Regions from separate parts of the Homo sapiens genome. Here region 2 is linked to region 1. The links come from fine-mapping of genetic effects on plasma protein levels. Region 1 holds a variant in brackets. A gene starts in the other region. All regions are shown on their reverse strands.

Region 1 (5,364 bases):
GTTGGTTGGGCTAATTGAAGACTGAAAGTCCCTTTCCCAGAAAACCAAAGAACCCCATCCAACAGCCCCACATCAAAGCCCCATTCTCAGCTCCGACCCTTGGCCAGTATTGCCTCAATCTGCGTAGGATGTTGGGCACCCTGGAGAAAGCTATCCCCACCCCCCCAAGCAAACAATGGTCTATTTGGGTATACACACACCCCGCATTCACAGTCTTCTCAGTATGTGAGCAGGAAGGACTGTCCGCACACAGAATCACAAACAACCCACCAAGAATGTAAAATGCTCCCATATCTACATGTGTGCGTGTGTGGAGTTTAGACGGGTCTGACCCACCCCTGTGTGCCGGATTCTAGCTTGAGTTTAGGCACGTTCAGTAACAGGCAGTGGCCTCAGTCCAGGCCAGCTGGATCATGTATGCAGACAGCCATTCTCAATGGCCCCGGATGGGAAAACGGACACTCCCTTGCATCTCCACATGAGCGGCAGCTGGGGACGCATCGGGGTGAGCAGAGTTGAGATCCCCACACGCTCACAACCCCTGCTGTCTGCAAGCTCGCTCCCCAGGACACAGCCTTCAAGACAAAGTTTGCCCGTGTGGAGGGGAGTGGGCTTGGGGCTGCAGATGCTGGGGCTCTACTCGCTCTCAGAACCCCCCTCTCCCCTGGCAAAGCAGCCAGGCTGCTGAGAGAGCAGCCCTTCTGTTCCCTGGGAGGGTCCTTGGGGCCATTCTGGGGGATGAAGTGGGTGTCCACAAGGCCATTCCAACGCTCTGTGGAGAACCATGTCATCTTCCTCTGTTCCTCCCAAACTGCTGCCCCTCTTTATCTGTCCTGTCCCAGCCTGGCTTGTCTCAAAACCTCAAGGCCGCAACTCTTTCCGAGAAAGCCAGGAATACAGCTGCCAGTTCCATTCCCCAAGTGGGGAGTTCCAACTCTCCCTCCTGGCTCCAGATGTAAAGGAACAGCTGTGGGGTGGCAGGAAGCCCAGTTGGCAGCTAAGCAGGATCTGGGAAGATGGAGAACGAAGGCGGGAGAGACAGGCAAACGGCAGGATTGTTAGGATGCTAAAGACCTAGGAAAGAAGCCGTTTCATCCCCTGGCCCAGCAACTGGCTGTTAGGCCTTGCCAAATCCCTTCCACACTGCCCTCCAGGCCTGCCCATCCCATCCTGGCAGCCTGGGCCGCTGGCAAGACCTTCCATAAACTCCATTTTCTGGTTCCCACTTAATCTGAGAAGGGAAACTTGGCTTTCTTTGTCTGACCCCACCCCTGTCCTTAAAACACATACCTCCCAAGCATGAGATTTGGGTAACTGAAGAATGGTGGGGAAGAGAGGAAGGAAGGTGGGAGAGGACTCTGGCACTCTCGTCTGGCATCCTCCAGCCCCTCCCTCCTCTGGGCAGTAACCCAGGGTGCCGGGTGCCAGGCTGGGTGCCTGCAGACGGGTGCTGTGAGCACCACTCACTCTCCTGCTATGCCAGGGTGATAATGCATGACCGGGCACCCAACACTGGACTCAATAAGTCATTATTTCCTGAGTGACCATGCCCTGCTCTGGTCTAACAAGCCTGCCCACTGCCACACCCTGTCCCATGCCTTCCCCCACCTGAAAGGACACAGGACATCACAACTGCTTCCGTTTTAGGAAAAATAGTTTAATGGTAGGTTTGTAACCTCTTTTCTAGATGAGGTCCCCTTCTCGGTGGAACCCCCACACCAGTGCTCTTCCCATGCCTGCTGGGAGGTAGCAGCCCCTCTCTGGAGGGCACCCACCCATTCCCAATGCCCCTGCCCTCCTGGGAGGCCAGTGCCGTGTCTAGGCCTTGGTGGGGCCATCGCTGTAAGTTTTTATAAAAAGTGGGCAGAATTCTCTACTGGCCTCTTTCCTGGATGTGTGGGACCAGCCCACAGCACCTTCCTACCCCTTAATTAAATAGCCCATTAAATAATCTCTTGGTGCTGGCAGAGAGGGGGTGCCACAGCAACGAGCCCCCTGCCCTGGCCGGGCTCCCACGGCTCCAGCGCCCCCACCCTGACTGGATCTCGGCTCCATAAGAGCAGCCAGGGGCATGGCCTCATCTCAGACCTGGCCAGGCCCAGAACTCCCTCCCCAAGAGGGGGTGAGTCCAAGTGGGTCATACTGGCACCAGCCACCCCCACAGCCACGCATGGGGGTCACCCAGACAGCAGAGTAGGCAACCGACAGGCTACAGCTCTTGCCCAGGTCAGAAGGACGTGAGGTTCTTGATAGCTCCCATCTCCAGCATCCGCTTAATGGCCAGGGCCTCTTGGGAGACATTATGGCCTGACCCCTGTGGAGACAGCCAAGGAAATAAACTGAGGGACTCCCAGGGACCTCTCTGTCCCCAGGAAAGTCTCCCT[G/A]CCCCTCCCAATGGCCCCACACTTCTTGGGAGCTCCCTTCCCCAGGCTGGCTCTTGGAAGGAAGACAAAGCCCATGTGGCTGAACATGGAGGATGCTGGCCAGGGAGTCCAGGTGCCTCGGTTCCAGTTCTGACTGCGGGAGCCACCTCTGGGTCTCAGCACTGCTCCCACTCACCCAGTGCCCCTCTGACTGTCTGCCCGTCCACGCCCTGGCCCACCATGCTCACAAGCCAGGCACTTACCGCCATGGACTTGAGCGTGATCTGCTCATAGTAGTGAATGGTCTGCTTCTTGTTGTAGGCGTCTGGGTAGCCAAAGCCGGCAATGTGCACCAAGTCACAGAGGTGGAGGGCCAGCGTGATGGCCAACAGGCCCGTGGTGGGCTTCTGAGGAACAGGGGCAGGAGGGTGTTAGTGGGAGCCCTGCTCCTCCCACCATCATCTCTGCCAGCGCTCTGCAGTGGAACTTCCTGCAGTCACGGAAACGTTCTCCATCTGCGCTGTCCAACAAGACAAGCCACGAGCTAACGAGCACGCAAATGGGGCCAGTGCAGCTGAGGAACTGAATTTATTTTATTAAATTTTAATTAATTAAATTGTAAATTTAAATCGCCACATGTGCTGGGTGCAGTAGTGCATATGCCCATAGTTCCAGCAACTCAGGAGGCCGAGGTCAGAGGACTGCTTGAGCCCAGGACTCCTGGGCTGTCGTGCGCTAAGAATGCACCTGTGAAGAGCTGCTGCACTCCAGCCTGGGCAACATAGTGAGACCCCCCCATCTCTAAAAATAAACAAATATAAATAAGTAAATAGCCACATGTGCCTAGCGGCTACCATTCTGGATGGTACAGCTCCACACATCTGGGGGAGGCCTGGGGCCTGTAGAGATAAGACTAACAATCAGAATGACAGCCATCATCATATCAGTTACTTTTTAAACACTATGTGCCAGACACTATGTTTAGTATTTTACCTACCTACTATAAAACATTATCTCATCTAGTCTCACAAAAACACTTGGAGGTAGCTATTATCATCAGCCCCATTTTACAGATGAGAAAACCAAGGCTTACAAAAGCGTTAAGCAACTCATTCAAAGGAAAGGAAGTGTTCTGCCCTCCTCCTTGGAGAACCTGACCTCATTCAGAAGACCTGGGTGCTCTGACATGCACTAACTGTGCGACCCTTTATGGGGGTGGCGCTCTATTTTTTTAAAGAGATGGGGTTTCACCACGTTGCCCAGGCTGATCTCGAACTCCTGGGCTCAAGCGATCCACCCACCTCTGCCTCCCAAAGCGCTGGGATTACAGGCGTGAGCCATGGTGGCTGCCCTCTCCTTTAAAGCAGGACAGCAGTACCTTTCCCATTCACCTTACTGGCTGCTCTGAGAACCTCAGTTGCTCATGCCTAATTCATCCACAGTGACGGGCAGCCTGATATTCTCACTTCTCCAGCCCCGCCTTCCTCCGCTTCAGCAACCTGCTTTGCACACAATTTCAGCTGCCCATACCCATTTGGGAGCCTTTCCTGGACCTCATCAGGCCTGTCGACATGCCAGCTTTCTCCCTCTCTGAGCTCTCCTGTCTTCTCATCTTCCACTCCCTGGCTGGACCTTCTTTTCCACCCTTGTTGCTTTCACCACCAGTGTGTTATCTCATCCAGCTGGGCTGAGCCACACTTCCATGGCCTTCTAGCCAGCTCTGCCTGGACACAGTCTCCTTACACTCACCAAATTCCTCCTCTTCCTTGCACTCTCTCTCTATTAGTTAAATATGTTACCACCCCCCGCCCCCTACCGGCTGTCCAAGCTAGAAACCCAGAATTGGTCAGAAATCTCTCAATTCCACCTGTAAAATATATAAGGCAGAATCGTAAGAGAACCCCAGTGACGCTAACCCTCATGTAATCTCCTCCCTTGCGCGTGTGGGGAGCCCGTGAATATGATGCGATTACGTGACGTTACTTTATATGGCACAGTTGAACACAAAAGGAGAGGCTGTCCTGCTGAGCTTGACCTAATTACCTGAACCTTTAAATCCGGGTGTCAAGATCAGAAACGGAGGTCAGAGATTTGAAGCACAGAAAGGATCTATTGTGCCGTCGCTGGCTTGAAGATGGAGGCTGTACGGTCAAGAAATGTGGGCCACCTCCAAGAGCTGAGCGTGGCCCCCAGCCTCCAGCTGACAGCCAGCAAGGAAATGGGGACCTCAGTTCTACAATCGCAGGAACCGAATTATTTCAACCACAAGAATGAGCCTGGAAGCAAAATTTTCCCCCAAGCTTCCAGATGAGAACTGTCTGGTTGACACACCGAGTCCAGCCTTGTGACACCCTAAACAGAGAACCAGCCACACCCTGCTGTTCTGATCTACAGGACCATGAGCCAGTACATGGGTATTGTTTTAGCCGGCTAAACTTGTGGTATTAGTTAGGGAGCAACAGAAAGCTAATACAGGCCAGGCGCAGTGGCTCACACCTGTAATCCCAGCACTTTGGGAGGCCGAGGCGGGTAGATCACCTAAGGTCAGGAGTTCGAGACCAGCACTCCTGTGTTTTGTATTTTCGTAAAAATACAAAAATTAGCCAGGTGTGGTGGTACATGCCTGTAATCCCAGCTACTTGGGAGGCTGAGGCAGGAGAATCACTTGAACCTGGGAGGCAGAGGTTGCAGTGAGCCAAGATCACCCCACTGCACTCCAGCCTGGGTGACAGAGCAAGACTCCATCTCAAAAAAAAAAACAACCAACACAATGTTGAGTCCATCTCCTCCTTTTCCCTTCCCACTGCCAGGAGCTGGGTTCAGGTCCTCGCCCTCTCTCATCTCCCTCTCCAGCCTCCTCTCCATCTGTAATCCTATGAATGGCATGAAACTCCTTGTTGCCCTTCAACGCCACTTGTACTGGAAACAGTTCAGTGCTGGAGGAGCCGCCTGCTCTGGCCAAATGGAATGCCTTTCCCCAGCTCTCTGCCTGATCCTTCCA
Region 2 (5,365 bases), not on the chromosome of region 1:
AGCCGTTTCTTTGAAGAAAAGGATCCGTAAGTCTACATGCAACAGATAACAATCTGGGAAACATATATTCATCATCATAGTCTTGTGCTGCAGTGAAGTGGGTACAAACATACCCTGAAAGAGATTTTAATGAGTTGCCATAGCCAGTACTCACACCCATCCAGTAATAACTATTTGTCTCCATTGATTTGCTCACAATATTCAGGAGCTTGCAAGGAATGATTATACACTACGTTCTGCCATTACTAAAGGTAAATCCACTGCAGCACTTAAGGCCATAAAATGGAAAGCCAGGGTATACATAGGCTCTGTAACCACGTTAAATTATGAAAGCCAAATGGTGGTCCCTCACAAAGAGACTGAAATTAAGACAAACCCAACTGCAACATCTGCAGGTGAAAGAGAAAACACAAAGATTTACAAAAGAAAAACTCTGGGATAAACTTTTTATTTTCTTGTCACCAAAAGTTTCCCCAAAGAGCTTCCTAAGCTTCTCTCTCCATCAATATACTGAAAAGCCAACTTCATCGGCAGTTGATCAGTTTCTCTCTTCCAATCTGCTGCAAGGCAGAGCTTCGTAGGAGTTGGACTGTGCAGTACAAATATTCATATTTTAATTAAGATTATTCTCCAAAATTAGAAAACGCAGAATTTTTACTTCAATGAAAATGCAGAGAAATGAAAATGCACCATATGTAATTAAACTGAGGATTAACTAACAGTAATGGCATCAACGACAATAACTTTTGAGTGCTTATTATGCATCAAATATGCATATGGTGTTAAATTTAAAAATCTATGGTGTTAAATTACTTGTATCATCTCATTCCAGTCTTGCAACAACCCAGTATAGAGGGTATCGATAATCTCCGTATTATTGAGAAAGGGAAACTGAGGCACGTAGTTAAATGCCTAGTCCAGAGTGACGCATCACAGTGATGGTGGAGCTGGAATTCGAAGCCACGTGGGCGTCCCGGGAGCCTCCGCCTAGAGCGAGCCCGGGGGGCCCACCAGTTACCATCGCCACGCGCACGCGCAAATCTCCCCGCGCACGGCGCGTTCCCGCGGGAGCGCGCCCTCGCGCACGCGCCTGGCAGGGCAGCCGCTCGCCGGCCCTGGGGCTGCTCCGCGGCTCCCACGAGCGGGACTGGACGCCGGCGCCCTTCGAGGAGGGGCTGAACCTGGGGCGCCCTCTCTGCCGGGCCACCCAGCCCTGCCGACGCACACCTGCCCTCCGCCGCCGGCCTCCCACCCCTTCCCCGCCCGCCTTCCCGCCCAGCAGCCCAAACGCCCACCCTGCGCTCCACCCTGCTGGCCGTCTGGGGCGGGGGTACCTGGGCCCGCGCGGCTGCTGCTCCTCCGGCCCGTGGTTTTTCGCAGGAGTTCCCCGGCCCTGCCCCTGGCTGAGACACTGTGGCTCGCAGCGAGCCCGGAGAGTGGGAACGGAGGGGCTGGCTTTCCCCAGCCTCCCGGCTCCAATCCCTGCTCCCCAAATTAATCACTTTCTCCGTGCTGCCTCCCCACGCACACTCACACTCCAAAAAAAAAAAAAAAGCGAGAGAAAGAGAGAGGCACAAAGAGGAAGAAGGGACCATCCGCGACCGGCATCTCCAGCCCCCCGGGCTCCGCTACCAGGAGCCATGGCAACCACGGCCCCCGGCGCGCCCTCTCGCCCCTCGGCGGTCTGGGGAGGTGGAGCTCTAGCCCCTCTCTGGGTTTTCGTGCTCCCCAACCCCACAACCCCACGGTCCATGGATTCCCCGCTCCAGGCTGGCGGCATTTTCGGAACCCCCCCCGGGCTGGGATCTAGAATCCTCTCCTGAGAGGAGGAGCCACACAGGGGCAGTGGACTGGGGGGGTCTGAGCCCCACACACCAGGCGGTGTCCAGGGGAGCGAGGGGCGCGGTGGGAGACAGAGGCCGGGACTGACCCCCAGACCAGCTAGACCTCGGAGCCCCACCCGAGAGAGGGCGGAGATCTACGGGGGGGTCTGGAATCCTCCTCAGAGAGCAGCGAGGGATGGGGTGGCGGAGGCTGGAAGCGGGAGGGCCAACCTACCGGCGGCCGGCGGGCGTGAGTGGGACCCGGCGGATTCGGGCGCCCGGTGTGCTCCGTCGACTGACCCCGAGCTGTCCGAATCCGGCCTCGGCCACCGGGGGCGGGGCGTGAAAAGGGGGCGTCTCCTCCCGGGTGCAGGCTGAGGGGCCCGGACCACCCCCACTGCGGACGAGGGACCCTGACCGCGCCCCGCTTCCTTTCCATAACGAGTGGACCCCTCCCGGAGCACCTTCAGCCCTTCCTCCACGGGAGACCCCCCCAGCGCCGGCACGAGAGATGCCAGCGGACCCCCACCCCTGACACACCTGCGCCGCCTCCGAAACGCGATCTGTCCGGCGCCTCCCCTCGGGCGCCTTCTCCCCCGAGCCGGCCGGGAGCCGGGACGGGGGCGCGCAGGGTCCGGTAAGCTCTGGGCGGATCCAGGGAGGGTCTCGCCGGCCGCTGCCCGCTGGTCCGCACCCGGGGCTGTCCGCGGAGGTCCCGCCCGTCCCCTCCCGCCGCTGGCTCTCTGGCCGCGGGAAGGCTGGAGCCGTTCTGGCTGGCACCGGGGTCTACGCCCTCCTGCCGGAGGCTGGCTCTCGCCTCTGCTCCCTTCCTGGGTTCTGCGCCGCCACCCCTCACCCACGCCGCTTATCTTCCCTCCCTTTGCACGCTCCCGCGGGACAGGGAGAGTTACAGGCTTCAGACTTTATCTCGTTGTGGAAAGCAAGAGACCAAGCCAAAAACTTTGGTCGTGCTTTTCAACATCTCCGGTCAAAAGAGGTAGGATCCCTGCTCGTTTATCTGCAAAAGCGACATTTAAAAGAAACGCCCCCCACCCCCTCCCCGATGGTTTCACTCGGTTCATGTTGCACACACAGGTCGCCAATCTGCTTTTCTCCCATTGCTGCGTCTTAGAGGGGTGTGGTGCCATGTACGTATTAAAAATTGTCTTCTTGCTTTCCTTCATTTAAGGGCGTGGTGGGGCTTGCTATTGAATTTACAAAATATGCTACGACCATCCGCTGTCAAATTGTGCATGCTTAAATTTACAGATCTTCTACTATCTCACAATTTTTGCCCTAATACAGAGTCTATAATGTTACCACATCGTTTCGTAACGTTTTTCCTACTTATCCTTTATTAATTCACTATTGGAGAGGAAAGCCTTCTGTACTCATATTCAGTGCAAAAAGCCAGTTCTGATGCCTTATGAATCCACAAACACATAAAAATATTTTAGGATTCCAAAATTCATATGGAAAAATTATAATTTTTAGCACTACATTTGATTTATATGCCACTTTATTTTTTTTCCATTATGGTGGTATTTTCCAAAATTTTTACAGGATACCACTTTTGAAAATCCTGTTGAATGCAAGTCCTCTTTGTTGGTAAGAGAATTATTGACTTCTAATTTTTACTCCACTAAGGCTGTGAGATTGACCTTACAGCCTCGTTTTGTTTTCATCTAGCTCATTGAACAATGAGGATATTTAGCTCCCCTCAGAGCTACCCTCAGAGTTGGATGAGCTATCCTCAGAGTTGGATGCCACCACCGGGAGCAGCAAAAGCGAAGGCAACTCATGATTCTGCCTCAGAAGCAATCGAATAAAATATTTTGAAAATGAATGAATGGACTTTTAAATTTTAATCATCGCTAACCTTGGGGCCTCGATTCTGTCAATTTGTGTGTGGGCACAGTTCTTACCAACTGCCTTGGCAAATTGTGAATGCAAGTGAGGGCAGGATTTGTCCTAAGTTTAAATTGTACTGCTGGAGTGATTTCTTTTGCCTGAGGCATCATTATTCACGTGGCATGTTTTCTAAAGTAGAAACAAAGATAGAATATTAAATAAAATTCCAACAGGGGGAAATACTCTGCCTGTAGAAAAACATTTCCAAGGTCAAGGAACCACAAGAGAACAACAAAGCGAAGTTGGTCTCAGGAGTTTACCATCTTCTGGGTGAACAAACATCAGCTGAGCAAGGGACTCGGAACTCCATTTTGGCCAGATGAACAGAGTACTCTTAAATATATAGCTCCTTCTTTCTTGGTGATTTGTTTCTTGACAATAGAATCATTATTTACAAAACAAATATTTATTGAGCAGCTACTATTTAATCAATCACTGGTCTGGGTGCTGGGCTCAGTAGGAAACTCAATAGGCATGGCCAGTAGCTTTTTAAAAAATCAAATACCCTCCAAATATATTAGACAGTACCAAGCCACAATACCCAAAACAAGAAGATGGCCAGTTCTTAACTATGAGTTTTTAACTGAAAGGGAGATAACATTCTTCTAAGCTTCTGGCATTGCATATAAATGAAGAAATAATAGCCACACATAGCTTACTAGGGACAGTAAGGAAGTCAGCTTGTATGCAATACACGTTATCCCAGGCAACCAAATTTTACGAAAGAAAAGAGGGAGATAGGGAAAGTCTAGGGAAGGAAAAAAGGGAGGAAGGAAGGAAGGAAGGGAGGAAGGATGGAAAGAAAGAAGGCCAGCAAATGATAAACCAAGAAAGGAAATCGTACTTTTTAAGGCAATGCAAAAGGAAGACAGATGACCTAAATTTCTACATCCAAGAAACACCTCATAGCTGTCGCTTCCAAGGATGAGTTCATATTTTTGATACATTATCAAAAGCAGGCAACACATCTAGGCTTGCCTGGCCCCAGGAATTCACAACTCTACAGCCTGAGCTTCCAGTAAGGCTGGAACCAGAAGACAGTCCCCAGCCAGAGCGGATGCTTGCTAGAGATACCTTCTGCTGCTGCTTTGGAACCCTCCCCTGGCTCCCATTCTACTGTCTGACACTTGGTTCAGACCCATTTCCCATTCAACATACAATCCTAATCTATCAGGCATCCCACAGTTGCACCTAGGTGCTAGAGAAAGAAGATATACTTATGAGTCACATGGAAATGTGATTGCCGTAGCTTTGAAAGGTGTGAATTTTCTCTCTGATAATTGAGGACGGCCGTTTCGAATGAAAATACTAATATCAAGCCACAAAAATAGGGGAGAAAAGGGCCCTATCATGAATAGAAGCAGAAGGTGAGAGAGAGGCCAGTCATCTGGAAAAAGATAAAAGCTATTAAAAGCTGGGGCATTTTTCAGCTTTTCCTGCTGATTTACTGCCTCCCTCCCTCCCTCCTGAACCATCATTTGGTATCATTCCCAGAGCTAGGGCCATTGAAGTAGTATTGCCTTTTGGCAAATACAAGTAGCTAGTGATGTGGCATCATTCCTAGAAAAATTGTTTAGCAGAAGAGCTGGAGTTTTGAAAATGGCATTTCAGTCTAGCAGTTCCAAATAGTC

Alleles and levels. Positions count from the first base shown, and alleles are read on the strand shown. Strength reflects both the effect of a copy and how common the allele is.
As copies of A replace G in region 1, the plasma level of the protein whose gene starts at base 2,664 in region 2 goes up (moderate association).

Evidence for each region. PIP is the posterior inclusion probability: the model's chance that the variant is causal. The UK Biobank Pharma Proteomics Project read protein levels with antibody pairs (Olink). The fine-mapping took linkage between variants from a reference panel, not from the people measured, so its PIPs are less certain.
Region 2: it holds the start of CHL1, and the variant in region 1 is fine-mapped to the plasma level of the CHL1 protein (UK Biobank, PIP 0.96).

Annotation. Positions count from the first base shown.
Region 1 is chr11:126,410,911-126,416,274 of GRCh38, reverse strand. ST3GAL4 (ST3 beta-galactoside alpha-2,3-sialyltransferase 4) reads right to left here. Exons shown (of 11, transcript NM_001254757.2): 10 at 2,627-2,770; 11 at 1,637-2,314. The coding sequence ends at 2,228. Among named protein-coding and RNA genes, the nearest start is that of ST3GAL4, 58 kb to the right of the region's middle. The variant G/A (reference allele first, on the strand shown) is at 2,385.
Region 2 is chr3:194,062-199,426 of GRCh38, reverse strand. It overlaps CHL1 (cell adhesion molecule L1 like), which reads right to left and starts at 2,664. Exons shown (of 28, transcript NM_006614.4): 1 at 2,364-2,664. CHL1-AS2 (CHL1 antisense RNA 2) reads left to right here and starts at 2,086. Exons shown (of 4, transcript NR_144487.1): 1 at 2,086-2,460; 2 at 2,919-2,971; 3 at 3,387-3,431; 4 at 3,513-3,669.